Homo sapiens: one gene and its partners. The protein of the gene in region 3 purifies or fractionates together with the protein of the main gene of each other region. This does not show direct contact. Each region holds a gene or a part of one and is shown on either strand. Other genes may lie near its edges.

What was found.
Region 1: the proteins of CDAN1 (region 3) and TLK2 purify together in Homo sapiens (affinity purification with mass spectrometry, with the first as the bait; one large-scale study listed by BioGRID). This does not show direct contact.
Region 2: the proteins of CDAN1 (region 3) and NASP purify together in Homo sapiens (affinity purification with mass spectrometry, with the first as the bait; one large-scale study listed by BioGRID). This does not show direct contact.

Annotation. Positions count from the first base shown.
Region 1 is NC_000017.11:62,593,738-62,597,386, reverse strand, and holds part of TLK2 (serine/threonine-protein kinase tousled-like 2), read right to left. Parts: intron 803-3,649; coding exon 713-802; intron 1-712. UniProt on the Homo sapiens protein: Serine/threonine-protein kinase involved in the process of chromatin assembly and probably also DNA replication, transcription, repair, and chromosome segregation. Phosphorylates the chromatin assembly factors ASF1A and ASF1B.
Region 2 is NC_000001.11:45,586,992-45,590,640, reverse strand, and holds part of NASP (nuclear autoantigenic sperm protein), read right to left. Parts: intron 1-3,649. UniProt on the Homo sapiens protein: Component of the histone chaperone network. Binds and stabilizes histone H3-H4 not bound to chromatin to maintain a soluble reservoir and modulate degradation by chaperone-mediated autophagy.
Region 3 is NC_000015.10:42,734,900-42,738,648, forward strand, and holds the start of CDAN1 (codanin-1), read right to left. Parts: upstream 2,230-3,749; 5' UTR 2,204-2,229; coding exon 2,114-2,203; coding exon of another isoform or gene 2,090-2,113; intron 1,882-2,089; coding exon 1,403-1,881; intron 1,183-1,402; coding exon of another isoform or gene 1,180-1,182; coding exon 976-1,179; intron 781-975; coding exon 611-780; intron 476-610; coding exon 362-475; intron 280-361; coding exon 201-279; intron 1-200. UniProt on the Homo sapiens protein: May act as a negative regulator of ASF1 in chromatin assembly.

The DNA of each region.
Region 1 (3,649 bases), on a different chromosome or scaffold from region 3:
TGTGGTATATCCACACAATGGAATATTATTTTGCCATAAAAAGGAATGAAGTACTGACACAGGCTACAAGGATGAAATTTGACAACACCATGGTAAGTGAAAGAAGCCAGTAATAAAAGTCCACATACTATATGATTCCATGCATATGAGGGTCCAGAATAGGAAATCTATAAAGATAAAACAGACAGATTAGGGCTAGGGCAGAGGGATGGAATGGTGGAATAGATGAATAGTAGTAAAAGGTATGATGGGGTTTGAGATGGTGAAAAAATTCTAAAATTGCCTCTGGTGGTTGCATGTATCTATGAATATGCTACAAACCACTAAACTGTATATTTTACATGTGTGAATCATACAGTATGTGAATTATAATTAAGATGTTTAAAAAAAAACAAAAATAAACAGGTGGTACATCAAAATTAGACACAGGAGGAATATCTACACCACGGAAACTGGCAAACACTATAAATTAGCCCTGTCTCTCTTCATACCAAGCTGGCTGTTAAACATTTACTGGCACACAAGTGCACATGTCCTTTGGCCTAGAGGTTTCTTGCTGATCCAAATCTGAATTTATGTTTGATCATTTGTCACAAATTACTTGGTTCCCTCAGAGGGTATGTCCTGGACCCAGAGTTCAGCTCTATTCCATGAACAATCAGCATTGCAAGAAAATAATATAACTGTTAAGGTAAAACAGCACAGCACTTACGAGTCAGTATCCAGTGAAAAGTAATCATACAGCTTAACTATTCTGGGATGATCCAGCTCTTTATGAATCCGGTATTCCCTACATGCATGCCTGTAAACAAAAGGGAAAATTAACAAGAAGGTATATTGGCCTGCCTTTTAGAACTCTTCAAAGATCCTCCTAAATATTCAATCATTTCTCTATTGTCTCCACATGTTAATTCCATTCAGGTCCATCTGGTCCCTCATCTGACTTTTCTCTTTGCTCATCCTATTTTCTCCACTGGAATCTACCAAGCCATTGAGAAAATAATAGGTGCTCTGGCTGGGCGTAGTGGCTCACGCCTGTAATCCCAGCACTTTGGGAGGCCGAGGCAGGTGGATCACGAGGTCAAGAGATGGAGACCATCCTGGCCAACATGGTGAAACCCCGTCTCTACTAAAAATATAAAACTTAGCTGGGCGTAGTGGTGCGCACCTGTGGTCCCAGCTACTCGGGAGGCTGAGGTAGGAGTCACTTGAACCCAGGAGTTGGAGGATGCAGTGAGCTGAGGTCGCGCCACTGCACTCCAGCCTGGTGACAGAGCGAGACTCTATCTCCAAAAATAAAATAAAATAAAATAACAGGTGCTCAAATATTTGTTAAGTGAATGGATGTCAACCCTTTTCATCCCTTTCAAGTTCATTCTATGATAATCACACCTCTTTTCCACGTATACTCAAGTATCATAGATTTTAAAATAACAAGGACGGTTATTTTCCCCCCTCCTCTAAAGCTGATACATCATATCTGTAAATGTATATATGCTCGGGTAACATCAAAGGGGTCATTTTTAGCATGTAAACCCCTTAGGTTAAAGCATTATCTGTTACATAAATCAATTAGCAGTACTTTGTATTTTTTGTTTTTAAATCCTTCTTACAAAAACAATTTAAGTGCTATTAGCTTTACTTTATTCTAATAAAATATGAAATGTGAAATTATGGAACCCCAGTTTTCTTAGAATGGCGAATTTGATACAGTCATCCACTGCAGAACAACCCTTCGGTCAATGATGCTAAGCCACACATATGACGGGGTCCCATAAGAGTATAACAGAGCTTCCCATGAACTGAGGAAGAAAAAAAAAAAAAAAGTACAACAGAGGTGAAAAATTCCTATCACCTGGTAACCCAGCAGTCATGATGTCACCACACAATGCATTACTCGCGCTTGTGGTGATGCTGGTGTAAACAAACCTACTGTGCTGCCAGCCATATTAAAGTCTAGCACCTAACAATTATCTACAGTATATAACACTTGATAATGATAATAAATGAATACATTATTGGTTTATGTATTTACTATACAGCAGGCCCTTAAATAACATCATTTTGTTATAACGCTGATTTAAAAAAAAAAAAAAAAAAAAAGGGGGCCAGGCACGGCAGCTCATGCCTGTAATCCCAGGACTTTGGGAGGCCAAGGCGGGTGGATCACCTGAGGTCGCTGGATCACCTGAGGTCAGGAGTTCGAGACCAGCCTGACCCAACATGGTGAAACCCCGTCTCTACTAAAAATACAAAAATTAGCTGGCCGTGGTGGTGGCCACCTGTAATCCCCACTACTCAAGAGGCTGAAGCAGGAGAATCACTTGAACCTGGGAGGTGGAGGTTGCAGTGAGGCGAGACTGCGCCATGGCACTCTAGCCTGGGTGATAAAGTTAGACTCCGTCTCAAAAAAAAAATCAATTCCTGGTCGGCACCACTGTCCATGTGGAGTCTGTTTGTTCTTCCCCTATCTGTGTGGGTTTTCTCAGGTTATTCTGCTTTCCTCCCACATCCCAAAGGCACATGTGTTGGGTTCACCGGCATACCCACATGGGGTGTGTGTGTGTGTGTGTGTGTGTGTGTGTGTGTGTGTGTGTACCCGCCCTGCAATGGGATGGCATCCTGTCTAGGGTGGCTCCCACCTTGCCCCTGAGCTGCTGATATAGGCTCTGGCCACCCTCAACCCTGAGTGGGGAATGAGTGGGTAAATGTTACCTTGTTTCTATTAAACTTTCTTAAATGTATATAAAGCTCATATACATTTCAACGTTTAGTATTAGAAGTGTTTTAGTCTTTATTTAGAAGCTGGGTAATGTTTTTGTGACCAGGAATATGCCACAGGAACTTAACTCTTGTTTATGTCAATTAGCCTATGGTAAAATTGGTTTTGTTACACCTTGTTTCCCTTAAAGTTGTAGTTTCCAAGAACCTATCACTGCTACTAAGTGAGGGCTTATGTACTGCACTTTTTTTGTTTTTGAGATGGAGTCTCGCTCTGTTGCCAAGGCTGGAGTGCAGTGGCGCGATCACAGCTCACTGTGGTCTTTGCCTTCCAGGTTCAAGCGATTCTCCTGCCTCAGCCTCCCAACTAGCTGGGATTACAGGCACATCCCAGCACGCCCAGCTAATTTTTGTATTTTTAGTAGAGAGGGGGTTTTGCCATGTTGGCCAGGTTGATCTTGAACTCCTGACTTCAAGTGATCCGCCTGCCATGGCCTCCCAAAGTGCTGGGATTACAGGCATGAGCCACGGCACCTGGCCTGCACTGTACTTTTTAATTATTTAAATTTTAGAGAGCAGGGGCGGTGGCTAACGGCTGTAATCCCAGCACTTTGGGAGGCTGAGGCAGGCGGATCACTTGAGGTCAGGAGTTTGAGGCCAGCCTGGCCACCATGGAGAAACTGCGTCTCTACTAAATATACAAAAAGCAGCAGGGAGCGGTGGTGTGCACCTGTAATCCCAGCTATTTGGGAGGCTGGGGCAGGAGAGACGCTTGAACCCAGGAGGCAGAGGTTGAAGTAAGCTGAGATAACACCACTGCACTCCAGCCTGGGCGACAGAGTGAGACTCCATCTCAAAAAAAAAAAAAAAAAAATTTAGAGTGTACCACTTCTACTTATTAAAAAAAAAAAATTAACTACAAAACAGC
Region 2 (3,649 bases), on a different chromosome or scaffold from region 3:
TTAAAAGCAAGGAACCAGTAAAAACACTATTAAGTATCATTGTAAAGCATTTATCAGTGATAAATTTCTTTTCTTTTTTTTTTTTTTTTTTGAGACAGAGTCTTGCTCTGTCGCCCAGGCTGGAGTGCCCTGGCACGATCTCCGGCTCACTGCAAGCTCCGCCTCCCGGGTTCACGCCATTCTCCTGCCTCAGCCTGGGCCTGGTGCCAGGCCGGTGCCTGTGCACCGGCCACCATGCCCGGCTAATTTTTTTGTATTTTTAGTAGAGACAGGGTTTCACCGTGTTAGCCAGGATGGTCTCGTCTCCTGACCTCGTGATCCACCTGCCTCGGCCTCCCAAAGTGCTGGGAATACAGGCGTGAGCCACCGCGCCCGGCCGATAAATTTATTTCTATTCTTGCTTAGCACAAGCCTAGACAAATAGAAAAGAGGGTGAACTAAGGCAGTACTTGTATAGTTGGAAAAAAAGATGAATTAAAGCAGTGTTTCTCAAATTTTAGTCTGTATGCAAACCATTTGGAGGAACGGTTATAACAGTTTGAGCTCCACCCCCTACAGTTTCTGAGTCAGAAGGTTTGAGGTAAGGTTGAAGAATCTGCATTTCTAACAACTGCCCAGGTGACACACTGCTGGTTTCTAGAACCATGCTCTGAGGACTACTGGATCAGAATAAAAATTATAAATGGATGTTCATGTCCTATCTGGGCAATAGGTATGTCTGATTCAGTTTTGTTTTGTTTTTGAGACAGTCCTTCTCTGTTGCCCAGGCTGGAGTGCAGTGGTATCATCTCAGCTCCCTGCAACCTCTGCCTTCTGGGTTCAAGCCATTCTCCTGCCTCAGCCTCCCAAGTAGCTGGGATTACAGGCGCCCACCACCACGCCTGGCTAATTTTTCTGTTTTTTACCAGAGATGGGGTTTCACCATGTTAGCCAGTCTGGTCTCGAGCTCCTGACCTCAAGTGATCCTCCCGCCTGGGCCTCCCAAAGTGCTGAGATTACAGGTGTGAGCCACTGCGCCCAGCCTGATCCAGTTATTTTTTAAAATGTTAATTCTAATAGTCACTACATTTACAACTATGAAGCTATGGCTTCATAGTTTTATGACGTTCATTATGAATTTTTAGAATGAGCATGAATCCAGAGAAGTACTAGAGGAAATGATAGGGAAATTACTTGGTAATTTGTTTGGAGAAGGCCGTTTTAAACCCAGAAACCAGACTGGGTGCAGTGGCTCTCTCCTGTAATCCCAACACTTTGTGAGGCCTAGGTAGGTGGACTGCTTGAGCTCAGGGGTTCAAAAACCAACCTGGGCAACACAGCGAGACCTATCTCTACCAAAAATAAAATGAGATGGGCATGGTGGTACATGCCTGTAGTCCCAGCTACTCCAGAGACTGATATGGGAAGATTGCTTGAGCCCAGGAGATAGAGGCTGCAGTGAGCTATGATCATACCACTATACTCTAGCCTGGGTGAGAGAGTAAGACCTTGTTTCAAATAAATAAACAAACAAACCAGAAACCATAGGATATTGACAGATTCTACTCCATCTAATTCATTTCACAAAAGGTTAACTTAGCAAATATACATAGAATCTTAGTCAACAGGATAAAAAAGCCCAATGGGAATAGATTAATGGATTTAATATAAACACTCACAAACAAACAAACAAACAAACAAACACTTGACCACCTGCTACTGCTCATTCTTTTGTTTTTGAGACGGAGTCTCGCACTGTTGCCCAGGCTGGAGTGCAGTGGCGCGATCTCGATCTCGGCTCACTGCAAGCTCCGCCTCCCGGGTTCACGCCATTCTCCTGCGTCAGCTTCTCAAGTAGCTGGGACTACATTTTTTTTTTGTATTTTTAGTAGAGATGGGGTTTCACCGTGTTAGCCAGGATGGTCTCGATCTCCTGACCTCGTGATCTGCCCACCTCGGCCTCCCAAAGTGCTGGATTACAGGTGTGAGCCACCGCGCCCGGCCGCTCATTCTTAAGAGAAACAAAAAAACTATACTTAGAAAGTATGTTTTACCCATCGAATAGTCAAAGATAGGGTTAAGGAGAAATTGTACTCCCATACATTGCTAACAGAAATTCAAGGCTAGGCTCACAGCTATAATCCCTGCACTTTGGAAGGCAGAAGGACTGTTTGAGGCTAGGAGTTTGAGACCAGGCTAAGCAGCAAAATGAGACCCCTTCTCTAGTTCAAAAAATTAATTTTAAAAAAAGAAGTGTAGCCTGGGCACGGTGGCTAACGCCTATAATCCCAGAACTTTGGAAAGGCAAGGTGAGTGGATCACCTGAGGTCAGGAGTTCGAGACCAGCCTGGCCAACATGGTAAAACCTCATTTCTACTAAAAATACAAAAATTAGCCAGGTGTGGTGGCGGGCGCCTGTAATCCCAACTACTTGGGAGGCTGAGGCAGGAGAATTGCTTGAACCCTGGAGGTGGAGACTGCGGTGAGCCTAGATCGCACCAGTGCACTCCAGCCTGAGCAACGGAGTTAGACTCTGAATGACTACAGTCATGCGCAACCACGCCTGGCTGATTTTTGTATTTTTAGTAGAGACGGGGTTTTGCCATGTCAGCCAGGCTGGTCTCGAACTCCTGGCTTCAAGTGATATGCCCGTGTTGGCTTCCCACAGTGTTGGGATTACCACGTGAGCCACACCACCTGGCCCTTTTTTTTTTGAGATGGAGTCTTGCTCTGAGGCTAGAGTGCAGTGGCACAATCTCGACTCACTGCAACCTCTGCCTCCCGGTTTCAAGCGATTACAGGACCCTGCTACCCATGCTCGGCTAATTTTTGTAAACTGTAGTCTCAGCTACTTGGGAGGCTGATGCACAAGAATCGCTTGCACAGGGGAGGCAGAAGTTGCAGTAAGCCAAGATCTGGCCACTACACTCCAGCTTGGGCAAGACAACAAGACTCTCTCTCCAAAAAATTAATTATATATATATATATATATATATATATGAAAAAACTCAAGACAAACCTCATAGCCTAGAAATGTTGAATTAACAAAATGTATGTAATCAATGCATAAAAGATATGTAGGTACTAGTCTTCTTCACTACCATAAAATACAAATTATAAAAAGTTAAAATTCATCAAAACACACAGACCATACACGGCACCATCCACAGTTGAGATATGTAAATGAACAAAGATGCAGTATTAAATCATAACTGCAGCCGGGCACGGTGGCTCACGCCGAGACCGGCTGATCACCTGAGGTCAGGAGTTCGAGATCACCCTGGCCAACATGGCAAAACCCCAAAAAATTAGCCAGGTGTGGTGGTACACACCTGCAGTCCCAGCTACTTGGGAGGCTGAGGCAAGAGACTTGCTTGAATCCGGGAGGGCGGAGGTTGCAGTGAGCAGAGATTGTGCCACTGCACTCCAGCCTGGGTGACAAAACTCCCTCTCAAAAAAAAAACAACAAAAAAAAACCAACTAAGAACTAGTTAGAAAGCTAAGAATGACAGGATTAATTTAGCATGTAGATATACATCACCTTAAACAATACTGCTTTAATGGCACGAGGGGACAAAAGCCAACCTAAGACTTTTTGCAGACGACAAAACTGTGGTCCAATATCACTACTGAAGCAATGAAGCTGCTATCAAAGCCAATTCTAAGCCAG
Region 3 (3,749 bases):
TGAGCCACCACACCTGGCCCGATCTCAATTCTTTCAGGGACTACATTCATAGCCTTAACACAAAATTAAAGAAAGATTATAGGTAGGAGAAGGTCCAGGACCACTGCCCCTGTGTTAAGCACCAGCATATATCCCAAGCAGCCAGAGAGCTAAGCAGATGATGAGAATGAGGCCCAAATGCCTCAGCCAGGGAAACTCACTGAAAGTGACACTCCAAAACCTGCACTGCAAAGAAGACACAATCGTGGATGCTTTGGAACAGTGGACTTTCCAGGGAATCTAGAAGGACAGTACCAAGCTGTCAGTTAAGAACGGTCCCGTTTCTAGACCCCATGTCTCAAAAGGAGGCTTGCTCACTGACCTAGGACAGCTGGACTTAGTTCAGGGTCGCTGTCCTTGGCAGTCACCATCCTCCGGGCAGTGAGGAGCTGAAAGACGAAGAAAAGCTCCAAGAAGAGGTTTGGTACCAGGTTCTCTAGATAGATACAAAAAGAAAGCCCATGGTATGGGCACCATTTGGAGCCAAGGCTCAGTTCCAAGTGCCTTACCAATTCTCTTACCCATAAGTTCTACAAGTGTCTCCACTCCCGCTCCCTCCGCTCTCACTCACCAGCAATGCACGAGGAGTAAACAAGGGCTACAAGCTCCAGGCGCTGGCGGGAAGACACTCTGGCAGGGTCTGCAGGTTCATCTGTGAGGCTTCCTGTCCGGCTGGGGAGGGGCGACCCCAATTCTGGGGTGGGACAGGTGGGGGTAGGTGACTGCTGCAGCTGCTTAGAGCTATGGAATAAAGAAATTTCATGAGCAGTCAGCTTGGCTTCCCTGCTACGGCCACACTCAGGTCACTCCAGAGAAGATACCAACAGCCCAGGAGACAAACCCAGAGTCCCCAAGAGGGAAATCAATTTCAGGGAAAACCCCTGAAGATCCCCCACAGCGAGGAAACCGATATCCCCAGGAGCGGCCAGGCCATACCGCTCCTTCCTGAGCATCTCTCGCTCCTCTTGCAGACTTCTGCACCCTGGGGGAAGGCCAAGGCCCCAAGGGCTAGTGTCCAGGGCTGAGGGTTGGGAACTGGGGACACAGCTGATTGGGGGTGAGGTGAAGCAGGTCTTGGGCTTGGAGAGTGACCGCTCTTCGCTCACCGGAGTTGGGTTGATCCTGCGAGAAGGCTTCGTCCTGCTGAGAGTAGCCACAGGTTTTTCTCAAATTCCTATCTTCAAACATCTCCCCTCCACCACCGCAACAGCTAGACCTCTTGCCAAAAAACCCCACAAAAACCCTCACCATCACCCCCAGCCTTCTACCCATCCTGGCGCTCCACTGCGGAGCGCCGAGCTCGAATGACTGACTCCCCAGAGCCTTCGTGGTACCCATCTCCTGCATGAGAGCTGAGTCTCACCCTGTAGGGCCGGGGGGAACCGAGCCTACGGGAGGGAACTCCTCCAGGTTGCTGAGGTTTGGCGGATCAGACAGCGTGAGGCTGGGGCGGCTGGGGCTGCCAGAGCCCCTAAGCCTCCGGCCCCCGGCTCCGGGCAGGCTCTCCCCGCTGACCCCCTCCTCCAGGCCGCGGCCTCCACGCTCGCGGGCCGGCCCCGGGCCCCGCCTCCTGCCCCCGCGGCGGGCCAGAGGGGCCTCGGCAGCGGTGCTCTGGGCCTCGGTCGGAGGGAAAAGCTGGCTGCGCGCCCCGCGGCTACCCCGCGGCGGGCCTCCCGGCCTCCCTGGCAAGGCTGCCGAGGCGCCCGGGGTCTTGGCGGGGGTCGGGGGCCCCTGCGGGAGGACGCGGCTGCTCTGCTCCCTCAGGAAGTTCAACAGGAACGGTACGAATTCTTTCCGCAGGGCCCGGAGTGAGCTCAGCGCGGCCGCCTCCCCAGCGTTATCCTAGGGCAGAAGCACAGGTGGAGGGGCGAGAGGGTCAGCCGCCGGCCCGCGGGCCGTGAGCAGCCGGGGCCGTAGGGCGCGCCTCGGGTGGGCGGCCCGGGCAGCGGCGCCCAGTTGGAGTGCACTCGGCCCGGCTGGCAGCCAGGCGCCCTAGAGGAAGGGGACTGGAGGGCTGGACTCCACTGCGGGAACCGGCTTCGAGTCAGACCTGGGGGCGTGTCACCGCTGTTACCTCCGAACCCTGGGTGCTGCGCGCGATCCACCGCACGACGGCTGCGACCGACACCTCTTCTCGCAGCAGCGACTCCAAAACGGCCGCCATCCCGGTCGGGGCGCTCTGGGGCGACTGCGCAGGCGCCGGCGCGCCGCGGGCGGCCAGGGAGGGGCGGGGCCGGCGGCGGGGAACGACCGTTGGGTCGCGGGATGGGGAGGGACCCGGCTGGCGGGGCGGGGCGGAGCCGGCTGTTGCCCAGACCCACGGAGTCAAGGCCTCGCTGAGTCCTCAACCCCGGCCGAGAGGCCGGTTGTTAGGAGGTGAAATGTGGATCACAGCGCCTGGGGAGGCCCACCTTGGCTGCCCGCCCTGGAGCGACCTGAAGGGAGGGATTCGAGCTGGGAGTGGGGCTGCCGCGGGTCGGACGCCCCTCTAGGGAGACCCAGGACCCGGGAGAGAGGTAGAGGGGAGCAGAGACAGCCACCAGCTTCTATCTTCTGCTCTAAGCACATTCTTTCACGAGTTTAAGTTTCCTAGATCCAACTGGCACCACCCCAGAGAAATTATAATCTAATCTTTCATTTTGACTTTGTTCTTCTCAAAGGCCGATTTTTCAATCCCTTGGCCGAGCAGTACCCATCGGCTTTTCAGCGCTCACCATCAACTGACCATTTAGGAAAGAATTATTTCTAGGAGGTTCTTAATAATCCCCAAGCCACAACCCTTAAAGTGCCTCGGGCCACCCTGCACACAGAATTGCTTGTATGTAGCTTTATTTACTTAAGTGGGTTTACATGAGGTTAATATTTCAACTACTTTGCAGTTTAGATGTCAGTAAGCATATCATGATTAGCTTCTGGGAGCTTGAGGTTTGTATTTTTGGGTTTGGTGTTTTTTGTTTTTGTTTTGTTTTTTTTGAGACAGGGTCTTGCTCTGTTGCCCAGGCTGGAGTGCAGTGGCGTGAGCACGGCTCACTGCAGCCTTGGCCTCCTGGGCTCAAGCAATCCTCCCGACTCAGCCTCCCTAGGGCTATAGCCCAGCTAATGTTTTGGCCGGGAGAGGGCAGCAGATCCAAAGTGCTGGGATTATAGGCGTGGGCCACCACGCCCGGCCTGAGTAATTTCTTAATCTCCTTTATTTAATTTTATTTTGAGATGGAGTCTCGCTCTGTCACCCCCGGGGCTGGAATGCAGTGGGAGGCAGAGGTGGGCGGATCACGAGGTCGAGAGATGGAGACCATCCTGGCCAACATGGTGAAACCGTGTCTCTAATAAAAATACAAAAATTAACTGGGCGTGGTGGCACGCGCCTGTAGTCCTAGCTACTGGGGAGGCTGAGGCAGGAGAATCGCTTGAACCTGGGAGGCGGAGGTTGCAGTGATCCAAGATCACGCCACTGCACTCCAGCCTGGGTGACAGAGCGAGACTCCATCTCAAAAACAAAACAAAACAAAAAAACCTGAGAGAGGATTTTGAAGGTTGCTGCTCAGTGACAAATCAAGCAAGGGAATCCAAGCGGAGAAAAACAGATGGCACGAACATTCCATGTCAAACCAAACCAGGAGGGGTGAGGCAGTGCCCTTGTGAATGCCTCCTGAGAGTTGCTCTGGTTCAAAGGAAGGTTACGGGCGGAAGGATGAGGGTGGGGGTGCAGG